Linked DNA regions of Homo sapiens. The main gene of each other region encodes a partner of the protein of the gene in region 2 in a complex. Each region holds a gene or a part of one and is shown on either strand. Other genes may lie near its edges. The genes, in order: POLE3, POLE and POLE4.

Region 1 (7,506 bases), on a different chromosome or scaffold from region 2:
CTCCAGCCTGGGCCACAGAGTGAGAGACTCCATCTCTTAAAAACAAAACGTGAGATTAGAACTAAGGAATCAAGAGATCAGAGGAACTCACACTTTGGAGTATTAAGCAGGTTATCAAAGCTTACAGACTGACAGAAGTGAGAAAAGGAGGCAGATGAGAAAGTGGGATGGGGAGCAGAGGAGAGGCAGGAGAGAGAAAGGAAGCAGGAGGCACAGAGGGAGAAAGCTGTGCCTAGAGAAAATCAAGTTTGGCACTCGTCATGAATTGAAGAATGAAAAGCCATAGTCACAAGTCTGGGAGATGGACTACAAGAAGAGGAAGCCTGGGGTTTTACACCTTCCGGGAGGTGATGACAAATCCTAAAGCTGTACAGTAGCAGAGAGTAAGGTACATCTGACACTATGCCATCTGTTTTTGTAAAAGACACTGGCACCATGTTTGACTAATACCATTCCACACTGCTGATTTAAGAATATCTGTGATCAGATTACTACCACACCAGCAGGCCGATCATCTACAGGCAATATAGAAAGGTTTTGGGCCAAGTGGGTCTATGAAAAACAAAATTCAGTTAATGCTTCTGTCAAGTGAAGAGAGAGAACGGATTTTGTTATTCTCCCACAGCATTTTAGTAGTTTCCTAAAGCTTACTCATTCTGAGCAGTCTTAGTAAGCTACTATTGTCAAAGACTGTGCAATCAAACATAGGCTGACCATAAGCAAAGCCCCAGTTTTTCCTGAGCCTTGGCTGCCTCTGTGATCTGGAACACAGCAGGCAGCATGGAAGTTATTATTACTTATTTGGGGGACTAGGGAAGACTGCAGATCAAAAACCATCTAACCATACATTTAAGTAAACAAAAGCGAGCAAACTGACTAATTTAGTCGTTCAGAATCCCTCTTGTCAAAAGGCCATAACCTTCAGATTGATGAAGCAAAACAGGATTCTGCTACTCAGATGCTCTGAGTTTGGTAAGTGCTGGTTTTGACGGTATTTCTAGTCAGTTTTTATTCTGATCTTTTCAGGCACTTTTGCCTGAGACTACTCTGCCCAGCATGGAAAAGCTTCACAGAAACACGTAGCACGTCTCATTTCAAGTGGTACCTTCCAAGGTGCCACAGTCTCCCGCCCTTTTCAGTTGTCTACTTCTTCCTCTTCATTCTGTTCTTCTTCTTCCAGCCTTTCTTCGTCTTCATCATTGTCCTCATCCCTGCTCTTGTCTTGCTCTTCCGAGTCTGTTTTTTTGTCTTTGTCCTTCTTCTTTTGCTCTGAGGCCTCCTTCTTGCCTTTCTGCTCCCGCCTATATGCTGTAAGGACGGAACAAGGGGTTAGGAGACAGAGCTGAAAGTGAGCCAGACGGACTGCAGGAGCTAATTACATTGTACAATTGGAAAAACGGAGGCAGATGGGCGCGGTGGCTCACGCCTGTAATCCCAGCACTTTGGGAGGCTGAGACGGGCGGATCACCTGAGGTCAGGAGTTCAAGACCAGCCTGGCCAATATGGTGAAACCCCGTCTCTACAAAAATAAAAAATGAGCCGCACGTGGTGGCGTGCGCCTGTAGTCCCAGCTACTCGGGAGGCTGAGGCAGGAGAATTGCTTGAACCCAGGAGGAGGAGACTGCGGTGAGCTGAGATCCCATCACTGCACTCCAGCTTGGGTGACAGAGCAAGACTCCGTCTCAAAAAAAAAAAAAAAAAAACAAAAACAAGAAAAGCAAGACAAAAACAAAAACGGAGGCAGAGAAGGAAAAATAACTTGCTCAGCATTACAAAACAGATCTGAGGTGGTGCCCACCGAACTGGGTCGAGTCACATCAAGTGCTGGCTTACTGGACTTAAAGGGACCCGCGCTGAGAAGGCTCAGGGCCTGGTGAACAGGTCACACAGGATGACCATCTTCTATGTGGTTTAGAAGACAAGAGGCTCGTTACCTTCCAGAGCTTCTTTCAATGGGGTAACGAACCGCTGGAACTCCATCTCTTCCATGGCTGAGAGCACATCACTGGCATTCAGCGTCTTCCGCTTTCCTTTCATTGCAAAGTTGTTAGCACTGAGAGAAGAGAAAGGCTGTCAGACTCCCTCTTGTTTGTAAGGCGTGAGTGGGAAAAGGAGCACCCAGAGGTGGAACGGGAAAGCCTGCCTCTTACATGTATGGATTTTGGTGTGACAGGGATAAGTCCTTCCCTTCTCTGCACAAAAAAGCTAAAGCAAAGTGATTTTGTTGTGTTATTTTGCTTCAGAACTTGTAAAAACTGGCAGAGGACTGTGAACATGTCCCCACCGAGGGAGAACACAATCGTTGGGGTTTGTAGGCTCCCAGCCAGCAACTCCCAGCCAGGTATCCCCGCGCCTCCCTTATGCCTCTGTCCCGCTCACCAGGATGTGGCGTACAGCACGAAGACGCTGGCGGCGCGGGAGATGGCGCTCCGGGCCTCCTTGGAGATGTTGACACCGTCCGGGAGCTGCGAGGAGACCGGGGGTGAGCAAAGCTGCCGTTCCAGCACCTGCTTCCCTCCTGCCCGTTCGTCCGCCCCCCCCGAGCTGCTCACCGCCTCCTTGATGATCCTGGTGATCACGGCATTGGGCAGGTTTAGGTCCTCGGGCCTCTCCGCCATTGCCGCCGCTGGGGCTTAAACTCCCCTTCGCCTCCGCTTCAGGGAGCTACTGCGTCCGGACTTCCCGCGTCGCTACGGTCTGACCCTGCGAGGTTTCCGTTCCGCCCCACGTGGCCTACAGTGTCCCACAGTGCTCTGAGCGCCATAGCCTCCCTCCTCCCCCCACAGCCCCGCCTCCGCCTCAAATACCGGCGCATCCGGATTTTGAAGCCGCAGTGGTTTTGGCCCGCCAAGGCTTCCATCCAACCCTACCGCACCCCGCACGCCCCTCCCCAGGTCCATTTCTCTGCTTCTCGCCATCGCCGCGTCGGGAACCTTCTCACCAACTTATTTGGCTCAATGGAGCTTCCGTCCGTTTCCCATGGTGCCCTGCGCCGCTGCTGGGTGACGGCGCGGCCGGGCGCAGCGCGTGGGAGACGAAGGCGTGGCTGACTCGGCGGGGCGGATCCCTTTAGGACCCGAGGCAGGCTCTGGGCCCGCCGGGTCCGTTAATCTCACCGCGCCGCAAGGGGCCACGTTTTACCACTTGATTTAGCAACCCTAAGCGGTTTGGAATCTGCTTTGCTCTCACAGGACCTCAGCCCGTCGTGATCAGATTCTCCCACTTTCTTTTTTCTTTCCTGGAATGGAGTGGGCAGTCTTTTTCCATCTCTACCGAAGTTGATGTTCATTTTTAATCTTTTCGCCCCTCACGCTTTTGTAATAATGGTACTAAGACTGAGTGTTATTTAGATTTTATTGTTGTTGTTTGTGTTTAACGCGAACTATTTAGGCAGCCCAGGGATAATGCTGGCCATATAGAGATGCGCCTGATTAGGTCTCAGGAGTCAATTCGGACTGGGCAGGTAACGAAAGGGCGAGAAGCAGCCTTTTCACTGTATGAAGAATGCAACGTCACATTCGCTTTCAAAAACAAACCGTGTTAAAATTGTATTTATTTTTCAGTTAAATTGTTCATCATACATTTTTTCCAGTTAAAACCATTCTCAAGGTTTTGCAATGGCGTTTCTTTTTTTTTTTTTTTGAGACAGTCTCACTCTGTCGCCCAGGTTGGAGTGCAGTGGCGCCGATTTCGGCTCACTGCAAGCTCCGCCTCCCGGGTTCACGCCATTCTCCTACCTCAGCCTCCTTAGTAGCTGGGACTACAGACGCCCGCCACCACGCCCGGCTAATTTTTTTGTATTTTTAGTAGAGACAGGGTTTCACCGTGTTAGCCAAGATGGTCTCGATCTCCTGACCTCGTGATCCGCCCGCCTCGGTCTCCCAAAGTGCAGGGATTACAGGCGCCAGTCACCGCGCCCGGCGCAATGGTGTTTTAAGTTGTTTTTAAGTTATTTTTATATTAAGTTCGTAGAAATTCTCACTCCCACTGATTTTATTTATTTTTTAATTTTTAAAATTTCTTGACAGGGTCTCACTCCGTCCCCCAGGCTGGAGTGCAGCGGCACGGTCTCGGCTCACTGTAGCCTCGACCTCCCTGGCTCAGGTGGTCCTCCCACCTCAGCCCCAAATAGCTGGGGCTACAGGTGCGTTCCATCACACCCAGCTAATTTTTTGTATTTTTCGTAGAGACAGGGTTTCACCATGTTGCCCAGGCTGGTCTCGAACTCCAGGGCTCAAGTGATTCTCCCTCGGCCTTGCAAAGTGCTGAGATTACAGGCATGAGCCACGGCGCCCAGCCTCCCACTGAGAATTAATGCTGCTTTTTTTTCCCGTCAAGCATGCAGTCCCAAGTCGCCCTGTAGTTTTCCTGCTTTCGATAGAAGCCTGATTATAGAGAAATATTTTAAAACAAAAGAGCAAATGCTATGATAAATGGCAACTGAAAGTGTTTCAATTAGAGACCATAAGGTCTGGTGGGGGAACTCCGCTTGGATAGAACAGACCTGGCTGAAACCATCAGGGCTGCTCAGCGCTAGTCAGTTGCTCTTCAACTGGAATTGGGCTCAGTGTTGTCAAGTATTTTGGTCCCTAAAAGGACATTGTGGGCTATTTCAATTTTAAAATTGATTCAAATTTAAAATTGATTCAAAGTGCTAGCCAAACAAAACAAGTAATAGGCCAGGTGCAATCCCAGGCTGATAGTTTATCTTTGATCTAAATTATGAAACTGTTTAGAACAGGGAGTTTGTTTATTACTGTTCATGTCCAAAGCAGGTCCCCTCACATATTTAGTAATCAATAAATGTGTTGAATAAAAGAAAGAAATGGACACTGTCCTTAAAAAGTTCTTAGGAATAAGGTGGTAGTTAGTGATTGCCTAAAACACCTCTAGAAAGGAAAAGATGATAATATTTATTGAACACCTCCCATGAATAAAAGTACATTATCTCATTTAATGCTTCTGCAGTCCTACTTAGGGATTCCCTGCCTTCTGCTTATGTTATTTATTATTTTTTGTGGAGAGGGGGTAACTCATCTTGGCCTACCAAAGTGCTGTGGTTACAGACCTGAGACACCAAGTCAGGACCCCTCCCCCTACTTGAGAGAGAGGTGTGAAGACCCTTGTCAAAGGCCATATGGCCAATGAATGAAAAGCTAATGGCCTCTGATGCAACTAGCAGTGTCTAGTGATTTGCTATTTGAGCAAACACATTCATTGCTGGTGGGTATTTTATCTGCCTGCATGGGAACTGAAGCACATTGAAAAATGAAACATGTCTTCCAGAAGTTTGGGCCTTCTAAGACACTTCTGTGACTACTTTGGTCATAATTTGATAATGCTTTTTGGAGATGGTGGCATCTTCTCCCTGATGACTAACGAAGGGGAAAAGGAAAGGATGCAAATATTTATTTGGAACAATATGCCAGGCTTTTAATATCCATTAACTAATTTTTATAATGACCCTGTGAAATAAGCTTATCCTCATTTTACAGTGGAGGCAACAGGCTCAGACTGGTTAAGTCCCAGGTCACTCAGCTATTAAATAGCCAATTAGGAGACCTGAAGTCCTGCTCTCAAACTCTTGCCATTCTACTTTATGCTGAGCTATTTTCATACTTGCTTGTTATCCAATCTTTAATTATTTTGTGGCCATCATTTACCTATATAGGTTCAATAGAAATATTTTATACTGTGAGTTCAAATTAACATCTGGACTGTATGGCTAATGTATAATACTCCCTAATTATGTAGCTGTTGATTTTCCAGAGCACTAGAATGCTGCAGGGTTGGCCTTTGGCCTAAACCATTTCTAGCTATGGACTTGCCAGATGAGAGCCAGTGGGACGAAACCACCTGTGGCTTGGCTGTTTGTCAGCACCCACAATGCTGGGCAACTATCCGCCGCATTGAGAGGGGCCATCCTCGAATCCTCGGCTCATCCTGCAAAACTCCCCTGGATGCTGAAGGTGAATTAGCCAGCTTCTGTCCTCTCCCTCACGAGGTCCTTAACGTATTTATGTATGTGGCTCCCTTTCTCCAGGCAGCAGGTTAACATGTTTTCTTCTGGTCTGCCTTCTTAGATAAACTCCCAGTGCTCACCGTGGTAGACATCTTAGATTCCGGCTTTGCAGCTCATCATTTACCAGAATGTACCTTTACTAAGGCCCATTCTTTATTGTCTCAGAGTTCAAAGTTTTACTCCAAATTTCATGGCAGGTAAATTATCATGGAATCTTCCTTTACAGCCTATTGTCTCAAAATTCTGGATTATGATTTTCCTTATCCATTAGTATACTTTGAGAAAGCTAGATTAAAAAGAAAATACCAATTGGGTTAAAGAAGTGGTGAATAGGCAGTGGGAAACAGAAAGAAACCCTTCCTGCTTGTGCCCTAGGAATTGGTTAATTTGGGAGGTATATTGGTTCGGTAGGGCTGTTATAACAAAATACCATAGACTGGGTGCCTTAAACAACAAAATTTATTTTCTTGTAATTCTTGAGGCTAGAAGTCCAATATCAAGGTGTTGCCAAGACTGTTTGCTTTTGAGACCACTCTTGGTTTGTAGATGGTAATTTTTTATACCCTGTGTCCTTTTTATTTATTTTTTTTGAGACAGGGTCTCACCCTGTCACCCAGGCTGGACTAGAGTGCAATGGTGCGATCATAGCTCACTGCAGCCTCAACTTTCTGGGCTCAAGCGATCCTCCCACCTCAGCCTCCCAAGTAGCTAGGACTACAAGTGTGCACCACCACGCCTGGTTAATTTTTTTTTTTTTTTTTACTTTTATTAGAGACGAGGTCTTGCTTTGTTGCCTGGGCCGGTCTTGAACTCCTGGCCTCAAGTGATCCTCCTGCCTTGGCCTCCCAAATTGTTGGGATTACAGGCATGAGACACCATACTGAGCCCCTCTCCCTATGTGTTAACATGGTCTTCCCTCTGTGCGTCTGTGTCTTAATTTCTTCTTACAAGGACACCAGTCTTACTGGGTTAGGGCCCCCTCATGTGACTTCATTTTTACCTTAATAACTTTTTAAAAAACCATATCTCCAAATACAGTCAAATTCTGAAGTACTAGTTGGGACTTTAACGATGAATTTTGGGAGGACACAATTCAGCCCATCTTATCAGCATCTGTATGTACGGACAGAAAACCATCCATATATGCCATCTTTCTTTTTTCTTTTTTGAGACAGAGTCTCACTCTGTCACCCAGGTTGGAGTGCAATGGCACGACCTCTGTCTCCCAGGTTCAAGCAATTCTCATGCCTCAGCCTCCCGAGTATCTGGAATTACAGGCGTGCACCACCATGCGTGGCTGATTTTTATATTTTTAGTAGAGACAGAGTTTCACCATGTTGGCCAGGCTGGTCTCAAACTCGTGACCTCAAGTGATCCACCCGCCTCAGCCTCCCAAAGTGCTAGAATTACAGGTGTGAGCCACCATGCCCAACCCTGTCTTTCTATTTCCTTTTTTTTTGGTGGGGGATAGGGTCTTACTTTGT
Region 2 (7,108 bases):
GTAACACAAGCAAAACTTACAGGTCGTTCAACAAGGTCATCTCGGCGGGTGATTTCTACCGGAAAAGCATTTCCTCGGTATCTGACATTGTACCAATGAGCCTGCAAAACACACAGTGTGCTAACTAGAGTTCTACATCCAGGAAAGTCTATTCTTCTGTGGATTCACCCATAATGATCATCTCCTGGCTGTTAGGAAATTCATGTGAGCAGCGACCCAACCCTGCCCCACTCACCACGTGGATCTTCAGGTCAATGGAGAGGCGGATGTGGTAGGGAACATCGTACTCGCGCATGTCCACAATGTTGTCCAACTGGTCAGCTATCTTCTTAGAGGTTTCCTCTTCATCAGTAATGACACCGCCCCTCTGCAGAACACTAGGAATTAACAAGAGAGCAACTAACTCAGCTGCCAGGGTCTGGAGGAGGTGAGACCAGAGTTCCAACTCAGTAGGAAGAGGTGAGACCAGAGTTCAAACCGAGGAAACACAAAAGGTAAATTGATGTGGTTTCAACGACCAAGGCAGTCCTTCCTTTAAGAATGGCTTGGACTGGGCCAGGCGTGGCAGCTCACGCCTGTAATCCCAGCACTTTGGGAGGCCAAGGAAGGCGGATCACCCGAGGTCAGGAGTTCGAGACGAGCCTGGCCAACACGACGAAACCTCATCTCTACTAAAAATACAAAAATTAGCCAGGCGTGGTGGCGCATGTCTGTAACCCCAGATACCTGGGAGGCTGAGGCAGGAGAATCACTTGAACCCAGGAGGCGGAGGTTGCAGTGAACCCAGATTGCGCCACTGCACTCCAGCCTGGGCAACAGAGCGAGACTCCATCTCAAAAAAATAAAGAATAGCTTGGATGATAACTCTACAGACAGGAGAAAATTCAGTGTAAGATGTATTCATTTTATATGATGTGAGTTACACCCCAACTAGAAAAAAAAAAAGAGGGCCAAGCATGGTGGCTTATGCCTCTAATCCCAGCACTCTGGGAGGCAGGAGGATCGCTTCGGCCCAGGAGTTCAAGACAGGCCTGGGCAACATAGGGAGACTCATCTCTACAAAAGTAATAATAATAATAATAATAATTAGCCAGGCATGGGGTACACACCTGTGATCCCAGTTACTCAGGAGGCTGAGGTGAAAGGATCGCTTGAGCCCAGGAGTTCGAGGCCACAGTGAGCTATGATTGCACCACTGCACTCCAGCCTGGGCAACAGAGCAAGACCCTGTCTCAAAACAAATAAGTAAATAGAAGAAAAAAGAAAGAAAACATTAAGTGCTGCCAGTCAGGAGAGCCAGGCATGACCATCCCACCATGGTCCTGATACTCAGGAGGCTGCCTCATGCAGGCTGAAGAGCAGGCCTGGGCTTCACACAGCCTGTGCATGGGTCTCTGCCATGTCTAAAGAAGTGGCCCACCATTGCGGCCACTATTGGCCTATAAGCTCAAATACTGAACGGGCTATTCAGGGGGAAAAAGACAGACGAGTCTCAGATATGGCTCAAGTCTCTGAGGACTCAGTCTCTGATCACACCTTCCAATATTTCAAAAAGCAACTTGTGGCATTGCCAGGGAAGGCGGACTCCGGGTAGGGACTGTAGAAATGTTCAGCATCCCAAACTGATCCTCTTTTGTCAGAGGGTAAGGTAGGTTCTTCCGAAGTCATCTAAACTTCATTACTCAAGATTTTCTCTTCCTAACTGGTTACTTTGCATCCTATTATTGTTGATGCTCAAATACTTGAAGAACAGTGTTTAGTGTTCTAGGCTTAAATTTCTGTGGACGATACCCAAGGTTCTCTGGAGATGTGCTGTGTAAATCTCAGCACTTAATGAAATTCATAGATGGATTGTGTTAGGGCAGTAGGATGAGGGATCTTTTCCCCTCTAAGGTGACTTTACTATTACAACCACTCAATTTTAGAGCCATAAACCCACCCCTCCATTGGAAAAGAGAGCTAACACATAAAATATAACCTGGGAAGCCACTGTTTATTTAACACAGAACATACAGAAATCTCTACCTAATTGCTCAAGTTTTCCGTATCAAACAGAGCCAGCCATTAAGGTAACTTTGTTGCTACGTGTTCCTGTCTCCTATCCATCTTGTCGTTCTGAACCGCTGATGCTTTGCTCACAAGACCAAAGTTTACCTGGAAAGCAGAGCTGTGTACGCGTCGCTGGCGTGATCCTGCTCCCTGTTCTTCTTCACGGCAGGGGAGATCTCCTTCCTCACTTTGACAAGATCCTCCACAGTGTGGAAGGACAGCCTGATGTAATTTCGCTTCAAACCCACCAAGTGATTTGGCTATAATGCGAAGAGATCACGCTCATTGGTTCAAGAGAAATAGGACTTTATGGGTGAGAGGGTAAACACTCAAAGGTAAACACACAAGTCAAAGAGTTGGCGACTTCAAGGCACCTTGTCCAACTCTGCACGTGGCACCAACTAACACCACTAGAGCTCTTTGGAAGGAATTTTATAGACGGTCACCACACCGCCCCATCACCCAACAGATGACCTGAATTTCTACCTCTTCCGATCCCACCTGCCAGGAACAATGTAGACTCTGGCCTCATTTACCCCTGGAAAGTCTGGGTGATACTCACCAAGTCCAGATCCTCTTTGGGGACAGTCTCCACTTTTGCAATTTTGCCCTGAAACTTCTTGGAGAGAAAAGATGAAACTTCTCGCTCACAACCCTAATCAGGATCAGAATGAAAAGGCTTTCCATTGGTAAAATACATTTCCTTCCTTGCCTATTTCCCAGTTGCAAAGCCCACCACAGAATGACACACAGGTCGTCTGACCTGAGTCTATGAAACACACTCACCTTTCTGGTCGCAATGTAGAAATACGGTTTATAGGGCAAAGCCACCTGTTAAGAGTCACCAACCCATCCAGGGGTGATGAGAAAGAAGAAAGCGAGAGAAAAGTGAAAACACATTGCTTGCTCCTATATCCCATGAACAGCCTAGGGCCAGGGTAGCCTTGACCTTGGTAGCATACAGGAAGTCAGAATGCGCACTTTTCACAGGGGCAAGAATCTGAAAGACACGCTACTTCTCACCATTCAGAGTCTTCCTGAACTGACCTCTCTCAGGACATCTTACGTGATGACTGATGGGGCCTCCAGGGGCCCGAGTTCTGCTGGGCTATGGGCTGCTGTGCACTGGAAGCCTCCCATGCCCTCCCTGACAGTCACAGAGCTACATGAACACCCATAAAAGTGGGTTTTAGCTTGTCGCAGTCAGGGGCTTACCTTAAATCTGCTTCCGTCATCTTGAATAAAGTAGTAATCCACTGCACTGCCTAAGCGCTTATCTTCATCTAAAATCTCGGTCTACAAGAGAATCAGTCAACACAGACACAAGACCATCCTCTACACAGTTAGAGAAACTTTCCTCCTACCTTTCGGGAAACTCAGCACTTTAGAAACAAACCCTCTCATCTAGGTCTTTACTCCACCCCTACATTAACACTACCAGCCTTATTCACAAGAACCACACTGTAACGGCCTCCAAATGGGGATCTCTCTCAATTTCTCCCTCATAATCCTTGAAAGCTTTATTCTGATGGCTAAAAGAGATGCCCATCACCTCCGGCTTCTCACAGTGGCCTCTCTGTGGCCCTCAATGACGTTAAAGAGGAAAGGAGAGCTGGGAACCTTCACATCTCCCACCTGATTCACTCAAAGTTCCCTCATGTGTCCCCCACTCTTTAGATAAGGACCACGCTATGACCAGAAGGGTTGCAGCCATATTCCTGGGTGGGAGAAGGACCTAGTGCTTACAGGATGCATGTTAATGAGCCAGCCTGTCTTCTCACCAGGCTCCTTCAGCCGCTCAAAACCAAACCGCAAATCCATCTTATCCGTCCACTGACTCCGTTCCAGGCGCTTGAGTGCCGAAACTGAGGAAGTGGCGCCATCATCCCTGAGTGAAAGAAGGGAACCCCGTGCTTAATTTGTAATGCCACCTGCTGCTGCTTCTTTTTTTCTTTTTTTTCTTTTTTTTTGAGACGGAGTCTTGCTCTGTCGCCTAGGCTGGAGTGCAGTGGTGTGATCTCGGCTCACTGCAAGCTCCGCCTCCCGGGTTCACGCCATTCTCCTGCCTCAGCCTCCCGAGTAGCTGGGACCACAGGCGACAGCCACCACGCCTGGCTAATTTTTTGTATTTTTAGTAGAGACGGGGTTTCACCGTGTTAGCCAGGATGGTCTCGATCTCCTGACCTTGTGATCCGACTGCCACCTACTTCTGCAACCCTCATCCCACCTAGTGTTAAGTGTTTCGGATATGACAGGGTATATATATTCCTGAAAAACCCCGAGCTTGGAAAAAGGCTCATTAAGATAAAAGGACTCATTGGAAAAACACAATTAGGGCAGGCCCTTCAAAACCTGTTCAACTTTATAACCAGAATACTAACAAAAAGAGTCATGATGGCTAGACACTGTTGCCTCTTGGGACACTAAAAATGCATAAAACTAGCCAGACGCGGTGGCTCATGAGAGTGCATGTAACACTGACATGATTTGAATAAAACAGACGGATTGTCAGGCCAGGCACAGTGGCTCACGCCTGTAATCCCAAAACTTTGGGAGGCCAAGGCGGGTGGATCACCTGAGGTCAGGAGTTTGAGACCAGCCTGGCCAGCATGGTGAAACCCTGTCTCTACTAAAAATACAAAAAATTAAATCCCAGCACCGTGGGAGGCCGAGGCGGGCGGATCACGAGGTGAGGAGATCTAGACCATCCTGCTAATACAGTGAAACCCCGTCTTTACTAAAAATACAAAAACTTAGCCAGGCGTGGTGGTGGGTGCCTATAGTCCCAGCTACTCAGGAGGCTGAGGCAGGAGAATGGCGTGAACCCAGGAGGTGGAGCTTGCAGTGAGCCGAGAACGCGCCACCACACTCCAGCCTGGGCAGCAGAGCGAGACTCCGGCAAAAAAAAAAAAATAAATAAAAATAAATAAATAAATAAATAAATTAGCTGGGTGTGGTGGGGTGGGCCTATAATCCCAGCTACTCAGGAGGCTGAGGCAGGAGAATCACTTGAACCCTAGAGGTGGAGGTTGCAGTGAGCCAAGATTGCGCCACTGCACTCCAGCCTGGGTGACAAGAGTGAAACTTCGTCTCAAAAAAATAAATAAAATAAAATAAGATAAAATAAATTAGATGGGTCGTCTCAATGTCAATTTCTTAGTTGTGACAATTGTACTCTACTTACACAAGATGTTATGGTGAAGTGATACGGGAATCTCTGTATCATTTCTGACAAATGCATGAGAATCAATCTACAATTACCTCAAAAAAAGGTTGAGGGCCAGGCGCAGTGGCTCACAACTGTAATCCCAGCACTTTGGGAGGCCAAGGAGGGTGGATGACTTGAGGCCAGGAGTTTGAGACCATCCTGGCTAACATGGTGAAACCCCGTCTCTACTAAAAATACGAAAAATTAGCCGGGCGTGGTGGCGGGCGCCTGTAGTCCCAGCTACTCGGGAGGCTGAGGCAGGAGAATGGCGTGAATCCAGGAGGCAGAGCTTGCAGTGAGCTGGGATCATGCCACTGCACTCCAGCCTGGGCGACAGAGCGAGACTCCGTCTAAAAAAAAAATAAAATAAAAAAAGAACAAGATAAAAAAAGAAAGGAAGACCCTTCCTTTGTCTGAAGGTATTCCTTGGATCACCTTCAACTCAAGAGCAGAATGACCATATTCCAAGACTAGGATCCTTACTTCTCATGAAAGATTATAACCACTTGTGGTAGGCAGGCAGGATGACACCCCCCATGAAAGACCCACATCCTAATCCCCCAAACCTGTGAATGTTATCTTACAAGACAAAAGGGTCTTTGCAGATCTGACTAAATTAAGGGCCTTGAGATTCTGCTTAGCTGGGTGGGCGCAGTGTAATCACAAGAATCCTTGTAGAGTGAGGCAGGAGAGCTAGAGTCAGGAAGGAGAAAGGGATGGGAGAGAGAGGGTAGGGGGGAGAGGAGATGCAACCCTTGGTTCTGAAGATGAAGAAGCAGCAAGGAAACAGATTCTCCCCCGGGAACCATCACAATAAATATAACCAACCAGACACTTTCATATTACGACTTCTGACTTCTAAAACCGTAAGAGAATAAATTTATATAGTCACTAAGTGATCATGTGTTACTGCAGCAATAGGAAACTGATACACCACCATACTGTATAATAAAGGTTTAATCTTTTAAATAGTTGAATGCACCCGTAATCAAAAACACAGAAAAACTATATTCCAAATCTTGCTAGAGAACAGCCTCAGTTCTGAGTCCCAGATCTTTATCAAAATCAAGAGTGAATGAAGTGCTATTTACGAGGCATCACCTCTTAACAGGGGCGCACGGCCCTCTATGCCAGTCCTCCAAATATCCTTGCCTCAAGTAAGTTGGATTAAGTAGACTAGAAAACTGCTCACTGGGACCATATTTCCTCCCAAAACTGCTTTCTCTGAGCTGTGTATCTCACTTTTAATCCAGGGACAGTAAGAAATCTGAAAAATGGGGATAAGTGTCACACAGGGAGCTACCATCGACTGGTTACTATATCACACCGTCCCAGTACTCCACACAGGCTCTCATTCACAGAGAGCTACCATTGACTGGTTACTATATCACACCGTCCCAGTACTCCACACAGGCTCTCATTCACAGAGAGCTACCATTGACTGGTTACTGTATCACACCGTCCCAGTACTCCACACAGGCTCTCATTCACAGAGAGCTACCACTGACTGGTTACTGTATCACACCGTCCCAGTACTCCACACAGGCTCTCATTCACAGAGAGCTACCATTGACTGGTTACTGTATCACACCGTCCCAGTACTCCACACAGGCTCTCATTCACAGAGAGCTACCATTGACTGGTTACTGTATCACACCGTCCCAGTACTCCACACAGGCTCTCATTCACAGAGCTACCATTGACTGGTTACTATATCACACCGTCCCAGTACTCCACACAGGCTCTCATTCACAGAGAGCTACCATTGACTGGTTACTGTATCACACCGTCCCAGTACTCCACACAGGCTCTCATTCACAGAGCTACCATTGACTGGTTACTATATCACAC
Region 3 (7,108 bases), on a different chromosome or scaffold from region 2:
ACAACCAGAAGACAGGCATTTAAACCTAACTTGGAAAAAAAAAAAAAACAAAGATCACAGGGCTCTCTTCTAAAGAACCAAATGAACTATATGGAGAAAACTAGAACAGCCTCTAAAACTGCCAGCTTCCCACAGCAAAGCATTCTGCATTCATACCCTCGGGGTCACCCAGGACAACATCTGGTCCCACCCCTGTTCACCCTAAAGCAAAGCTGCCAGGCAACAACCACCCCCTCATCCCATACACACACACACAGTTACCAAACAGCCTTATTCCCTTATTCTTAAATAGAATGAAAATCACCAGGTATCTGAAGAAAGCTACACAGTTGAAAGGATACCAAAACTTTTTTTAATGACCTAGATAATATAGGGAAAATAAAAACATAAGAAAAATAAAGCAAAAACACTTCTAATTTAAAAAAAAATAGAGGTGCTTTTCATAATGGCAAGTTCCTGTTGAGATCAACTGAGAAAGCTAAATAAAATATATAAGAAAAGGAAATCTTCAGGAATTGAAGAGACATCAAGAAAAAGCAAATGTGAAATCTAGAGACAGTAAGAACACAAAACAAACCCAGCCTCTAATGTTACTTCTGCTCTCATGACATCTGCCAATCTGAAAAAGCTGAGAAACTGGGCGGTTATTTGTGTAGGCTGAAGGAACCAAGAGTCAAATCCCTGAGTCTACCCAAGTAAGGAAGTCTGACACCCATCTTTCTTAAGCTAGAGCCCAAAAGGCTGCCCCCTCAGAGTAAGGACGAACTGGAATTTAATCAGTGCCCCTTCACAGGCCTGCAGCCTGAGTTCATATCAGTATGATAGTCCAGAAACCTTCAAGTCTTAGATCTGGATTCAGAAGTCCTGCACTGATAATGGCTGTAGGTGGCTTCAGGAGCAAATGGAAATTTTCTTTGGAGAAAGTATCACCATATGGCCTCAACTTATCTAACAAATACTTTTTAAAGAAAATAACCATTATCCAAAGATAGGCATATAGGGGGATAAAAGGCCATGTGACAGTACCAAAAGAAACAACAGACAAAAAGACAGTCTCAAGAGACTATGGATGTTAGATTCGGCACAGACTAGCAAACAAAAAACTCAAAAGGCTTTGAATATTAGGTCATATATTGGATGGAACATTCACTATAAAACAACTGTGTTTACTATGTTTACAGAACTAAAAGACAAACTTCAAAATACCTGCAGAAAATAAGAACAACAAAAAGTACTCACAAAAATTGCTTGATACTTTATTAAGCTAAAAAAAAAGACAACAGATTTGGAAAGGAACCAAACAGAACTCACAGTACTGAAAAATACAAAAACTGAAACTAAAAAAAAAAAACAAAAAAAATAGTTTAAAGGAAATGAGACAAATGGAGAGAATAAACTGGAAGATCAGAAAAAATTACACAGAATGCATACTAGAGAGGCAAAATTATGATTGAGTTTTTACATATATTTAATGGGAATCCCAGAGAGAGACACAGGAAAGAACAAGGCAGAGCCAATAGCTGAAGAGACACTCGCTGAGAATTTTCCAGGACAGATGAAAGACATTAATCTATAGATTCAAGAAGCTCAAACAAACTACATAAAAAGAAATCCACACCTCTGTACATCAGAGTGAAACCACAGAAAATCAAAGTGAAAATCTTAAAAGCAGACAAAAAACAAAAAGGATAAACTAGCTTCAAAAGAATTACAAACAGGTAATTTCTCTATAGAAAACATAGAAGCCAAAAAAAAAAGCAGTAAAATGATAGCTTCAATGTGCTAAAAGAAAATAATTTTCCACCTAGAATTTATATTCAACAAATTATCCTCCAACAATGAAATTCAAGGCATTTTCATAAGAAAAAAATGAGAGAGTCAGTTACCAGACCATACTAAATGAAGTTCTAAATGATTTATTTCAGGAAGAAGAAAATGATCACAAATGGAGGATCGGAAATACAGAAAGGAGGCCAAGCACAGCAGCTCACGCCTGTAATCCCAGCACTTGGGAGGCCAAGGCAGGCAGATGACTTGAGGTCAGGAGTTTGAGACTAGCCTGGTCAACATGGTGAAACCCCATCTCTACTAAAAATACAAAAAAAACTAGCCAGGCTTGGTGGTGCATGCCTGTAATTCCAGCTACTTGGGAGGCTGAGACATGAGAATCACTTGAACCCAGGAGGCAGAGGTTGCAGTGAGCTGAGATCGCACCACTGCACTCCAGCCTGGGTGACGAAATGAAACTGTCTCAAAAATAATAATAATCCAGAAAGGAAAGAAAAGCAAAGGTAGTATGTGACTAAATCCATATATCATTGACTGCATAATTCAGGAATAAAAATGCCTTATGTAGATTGACAAAGACAAAACAAAAATACATGACAATAACAGCACATAAATTAGGAGACGAGGAATTTGAAAATTGAGTTAATGGATCCTGAGATCTCAATTTGTTGAGAATGAGGGGAAAGGTACTAAATAGGCTTTGATAAATTAAGGACTTACATAGTAACTGATAATCACTAAAAGAATAGAAATAGAGCATATAACTTCCAAGCTGATAGAGGGAAAAAAATCAAATAATAATCCAAAAGAAGGCCAAAAATTGAGAGAAAAAAAAAACAAAACATAAAACAAGCAAATAAAAAGCAGGACAAAATAAGACAATAGAATTCAAACTCATAGATATGACCAATTACATTAAACATAAATAAATGACGTGCTCCAGTTATAGACACAGACTGTCTGAATTTAGGAAAATAATCCAGTTAAATTCTGTTCACAAATATATGGAAAGATAAAAATTAAAAGATTTACAAAAATCCGTACCGTGCAAATAAATACTAACTAAAGAAAGCTGATAAGCTTTAATAATATTAAACAAAATAGACTTTAGGGCTCAAAGCAGTTAGAAATAACAATAGCCAATTTACAAATATAAAAGGCTCAATCACCAACAATATATAACAACATTAAATTTGTATATATCTAATCACATGGTTTCATAATATATAATGAAAGAATAGACCCAGAAATATAAGTAGAAATAGTCCATAATCATAGCAGTAGAGTTTTAACACATAACTCTTTGAAACAGGTAAAATAAGCAGACAGAAGAAATTCAGTAAGAACACAGAAAATCTAAATTATACAATAACCAAATTTGGCATTGCAACCCCTCTAACAGCATCACTGAATTCCATCAAATATTCAAAAACAAAATAATTCCAATCTTTCAATAAGTTTTCCAGAGAATAGATAAGATAAAAAGTGGGCCAGGCGCGGTGGCTCACGCCTGTAATCCCAACACTTTGGGAGGCTGAGGCGGGTGGACCTTGAACACCTGAGGTCAGGAGTTCAAGACCAGCCTGACCAACATGGCAAAACCCCATCTCTACTAAAATACAAAAATTATTGGGGTGTGGTGGTGCGAGCCTGTAATCCCAGCTACTCGAGAGGCTGAGGCAGGAGAATCACTTGAACCCAGGAGGCAGAGGTTGCAATGAGCTGAGATCGTACCACTGTACTCCACCCTGGGCAACAGAGTGAGACTCCATCCCCCACCAAAAAAAAAAAAAAAATAGATAAAAAGTGTATAATTGCCAATGAATTGTATGAAGCTCACACACAGTATGAAAAAAAAAGACTAATCTCTTTTATAAACAGGGATGCAACATTCATAATCTGTTAAAAAATCTACATAAAATCTACAGTAAGCATAATTACTAGGTAAATACTGAAAGCTTTCCCTTGGAAGTCAAAAATGCCTGCTCTTACCACTTCCATGCAACACTGTACTAGAGATTCTAGCCAGTTCAGTAGGGCAAGAAAAAAATATATAAAGATAAGGATTGGAAAGAACTTCACAAAATTATTATTATTGGCAGATGATATACTACTATGTAATTAAAGAAATTCAAAAATCAACAGATATGTCATTCAAATTATTAAGAACTACATCAAAACAAAATTTTTAAGTAAAAAAACTAAGAATAACAGCTAAGAAAGATGCTAGTTGCAAAATTAACATAAAATCAATTATATTTCTAAAAACAGCAATATTTAGAAAATAAAATTTTCTTTAGAAAGATACCATTAACAATATCATCAAAAATATTAAGTACTTACAGAACAACATTTAACAAAATACATCAAGATTTCTTCAGGTAAAATAATTTATTAAAAACTAAATATTAATAAATGTTAAAGTAGACCATATTTATAAAATGAAAGGTTCACTATTGTAAAGATATCGTTTCTTCCCCACAGTAATTTATAAATTCAATACAATCCCAATTAATATCTCTTTTTGTGGAATTTGACAGATTCTAAAATGTACATGAAAATGCAAAGATTCAAAAATAGCAAAGATACTTAGAAAAAAACAAGGTGGGAAGATCTGCTCTCTCAGATAAAGCTACCATAACTGAGACAGTATAGTACTGATGTGAGAATACCCATCAATGGAAAAGAGATACAAATAGATCAATGGAAGAGAACAGAAAGGCCAGAAACAGCCTTGATTGATAAGAAAGGTAGCACTGCAAAGCAGTGAGATGACGATATGGACAAGCGGATATCTAAATATGAAGACACAAATGAGACTGGACCCCCAACCCAATACACAAAAATTCAACTCCACTGTTATGAAAGACAAAACTATAAAGATTTTAGCATATACAGAATGTCTTCATGACAATACAGTAGGGAATATTTTCTAAAATGAACACAAATAGCATTAGTTATAAGGAAAAAAATTGATACATTTGATTACCTTTATATTTTAATGCGTATCAAAAGACAACCTTTTAAGGAGTGAAAAGGCAGGAAAAGATACGTCTCATATACTAAAAAAGATTCATATCTAAAATATAACAAGCACGGCTGGGCGCAGTGGCTCACACCTGTAATCCCAGCACCTTGGAAGGCGGAGGCAGGCAGATCACTTGAGGTCAGGAGTTCGAGACCAGCCTGGCCAACACAGTGAAACCCCATCTCTACCAAAAAAATGCCAAAATTAGCCAGGCGTGGTGGTACACGCCTGTAGTCCCAGTTACGTGAGAATCTCTTGAACGTGGGAGGGGGGGCTGCATTGAGCAGAGATCATGCCACTGCATTCCAGCCTGGATGACAAAGCAAGACTCCACGTCAAAAAAATAAATAAATAAAAATGAAATAAAATACAGCAAGCATTTTTATAAGTCAATAAGAAAAAGGACAAAAATAGCTAACAGAAAAATAGAAGACACCCCTCAAAAAAAAATGGGCATGTATATGAAAAGACGCCCAATGTCACCCACAATCAGGGCAATACGAATTAACACCACATGCAACTATCACTTACATTCAATAACAGCTTGTCAAAAATAAAAAACTCTGGTAATACCAAGTGTGGGTAAGAATGAGAAGCAATGGGAATTATCATGCACTGCTGGTAGGAACGTGAATTGGAATACAGGAAGTTCAGCAGTACCTGCCAAAGATGGAGATACGAATACTCTATATAGCCTAGGTCCCAGCAGTATTATATATTTTATACACACATATACATCCACCCTAGAGAAATATGTACAAGATTGTTCACAGCAAATTGTTTATAATAGGAGAAATAAGGTTTCCCAAATATCAACATTAAAATAGTTCAATTGTGGTACTGTCATATAGCAAGGAACACGAACAAATGAGTTATGTGCAATCACACAGATGAATCTCATAAATGTGTTAACTTAAAACAGTTGTGTGACAGATGTTGGCCAACGAATGCATACGGTTTGGTTCCATTTGCAGAGAGTTCAACAAAACAAAACTAAACCTTAGTGTTCAGGGATGCATGCTTATATAGTAAGCTATAAAGAAAAGGAAGTAATTACCAAAAAAGTTAGGAAACAGTAATGTCGGGAAAGGGGATGAGAATAGGTATGATGAAGAATGAATATACGTGGGACTCTGGGGGCTGACAATACCCTATCTCTTGGCCAAGATGGTGGTTACGAGAGTGTTCATTTTATCATTTATTGACTTTACATTTACAGCACACACTTTACATACGTTGTATTTCATATGACTTAGAAAAAGAATATACATATACACATACAAACATATTTGCATAAAATATCCAGATTACAGAAGAAAACTAGTAACAGTTGTTTGCAGGGAGGGGACCTGAATGAGGAATTAAGGGACAGAGAGAAGGTAGAGAAAGACTGTTTACAGTCCTAGTTTTCAACTTCTACAATCAACCAGAGATAAAGCATGGAAGATTTAATTGTGATAAGATACAAATGTTATTAGCTTTGACAATGTCAAATTACTAGATAACACAAATTGATAGCTAGATGTGAACTAGAAAGGGAAAAGGGATACATGCACTAATAGTCATACTTTACAAACTGGGGAGTCAAGGAATACATTAAAAATTGGACACAACAACCAAAGACATCCTAGTATGTTATATAAACTGTAAAGGTAAAGAAACTAAAACTAGTGATACAACTACCAAAAATCAGAAAGACAGCAGGGGATTTATGGGGTTCTACAGGTTAGCCAAATCTTCATTTATCACAGCAGGAAGTCAATACATACCGTCTACAGCTGACAAACCAATGGGTAAGCATATTAGTTAGAAATAAACGTAACCACCAGAAAAGCTCAAAACACAAACAAAACAGTGGGTGGACGGCAGCTGTACTTCATTATAAGCCATTAGGTAACGATTTGATTTTCAAGTATGGATATGTATTATAAAAACGAAAAAAATGTATTTACTTAGACCATACACACCTAAGGACATAAGAACATTTATTTTACCCAGTAAAAAATAATATAATGCAGACTGAATCCACAGGGGCTATGATGGCTAACATTCAGATCTACCAATGTAGGACAGAGCAAAGGGATTCAATTACAGAGATAAATGAGGATGAAGGCAGAGGATGAAAATAAACACACCAATCATTCAATAAATGGCCATTTATTAAAAATCCAAGCTAAGCACTATGCTGTGATAGAGGCTAGAGTGGAAAACTACATAAGACCACCCCACTTCTATTCCTAGTACCCTCCAGTTTATTTTCCCCAGGGCAGCAATGTTGTGCACTTAAAATAC

The links.
Region 1: POLE (region 2) and POLE3 share a complex: the UniProt entries of both Homo sapiens proteins name them as parts of the DNA polymerase epsilon complex.
Region 3: POLE (region 2) and POLE4 share a complex: the UniProt entries of both Homo sapiens proteins name them as parts of the DNA polymerase epsilon complex.

The regions. Positions count from the first base shown.
Region 1 is NC_000009.12:113,407,676-113,415,181, forward strand, and holds the start of POLE3 (DNA polymerase epsilon subunit 3), read right to left. Parts: upstream 3,001-7,506; 5' UTR 2,942-3,000; intron 2,734-2,941; 5' UTR 2,619-2,733; coding exon 2,553-2,618; intron 2,466-2,552; coding exon 2,380-2,465; intron 2,054-2,379; coding exon 1,935-2,053; intron 1,309-1,934; coding exon 1,136-1,308; 3' UTR 1-1,135. Other genes in the region: uncharacterized protein C9orf43, read left to right, coding at 3,244-3,248, 5,770-5,969, 6,084-6,219. UniProt on the Homo sapiens protein: Accessory component of the DNA polymerase epsilon complex. Participates in DNA repair and in chromosomal DNA replication.
Region 2 is NC_000012.12:132,677,343-132,684,450, forward strand, and holds part of POLE (DNA polymerase epsilon catalytic subunit A), read right to left. Parts: intron 3,938-7,108; coding exon 3,796-3,937; intron 3,346-3,795; coding exon 3,265-3,345; intron 2,881-3,264; coding exon 2,836-2,880; intron 2,705-2,835; coding exon 2,612-2,704; intron 2,310-2,611; coding exon 2,155-2,309; intron 378-2,154; coding exon 236-377; intron 102-235; coding exon 21-101; intron 1-20. UniProt on the Homo sapiens protein: Catalytic component of the DNA polymerase epsilon complex. Participates in chromosomal DNA replication.
Region 3 is NC_000002.12:74,961,567-74,968,674, reverse strand, and holds part of POLE4 (DNA polymerase epsilon subunit 4), read right to left. Parts: intron 1-7,108. UniProt on the Homo sapiens protein: Accessory component of the DNA polymerase epsilon complex. Participates in DNA repair and in chromosomal DNA replication.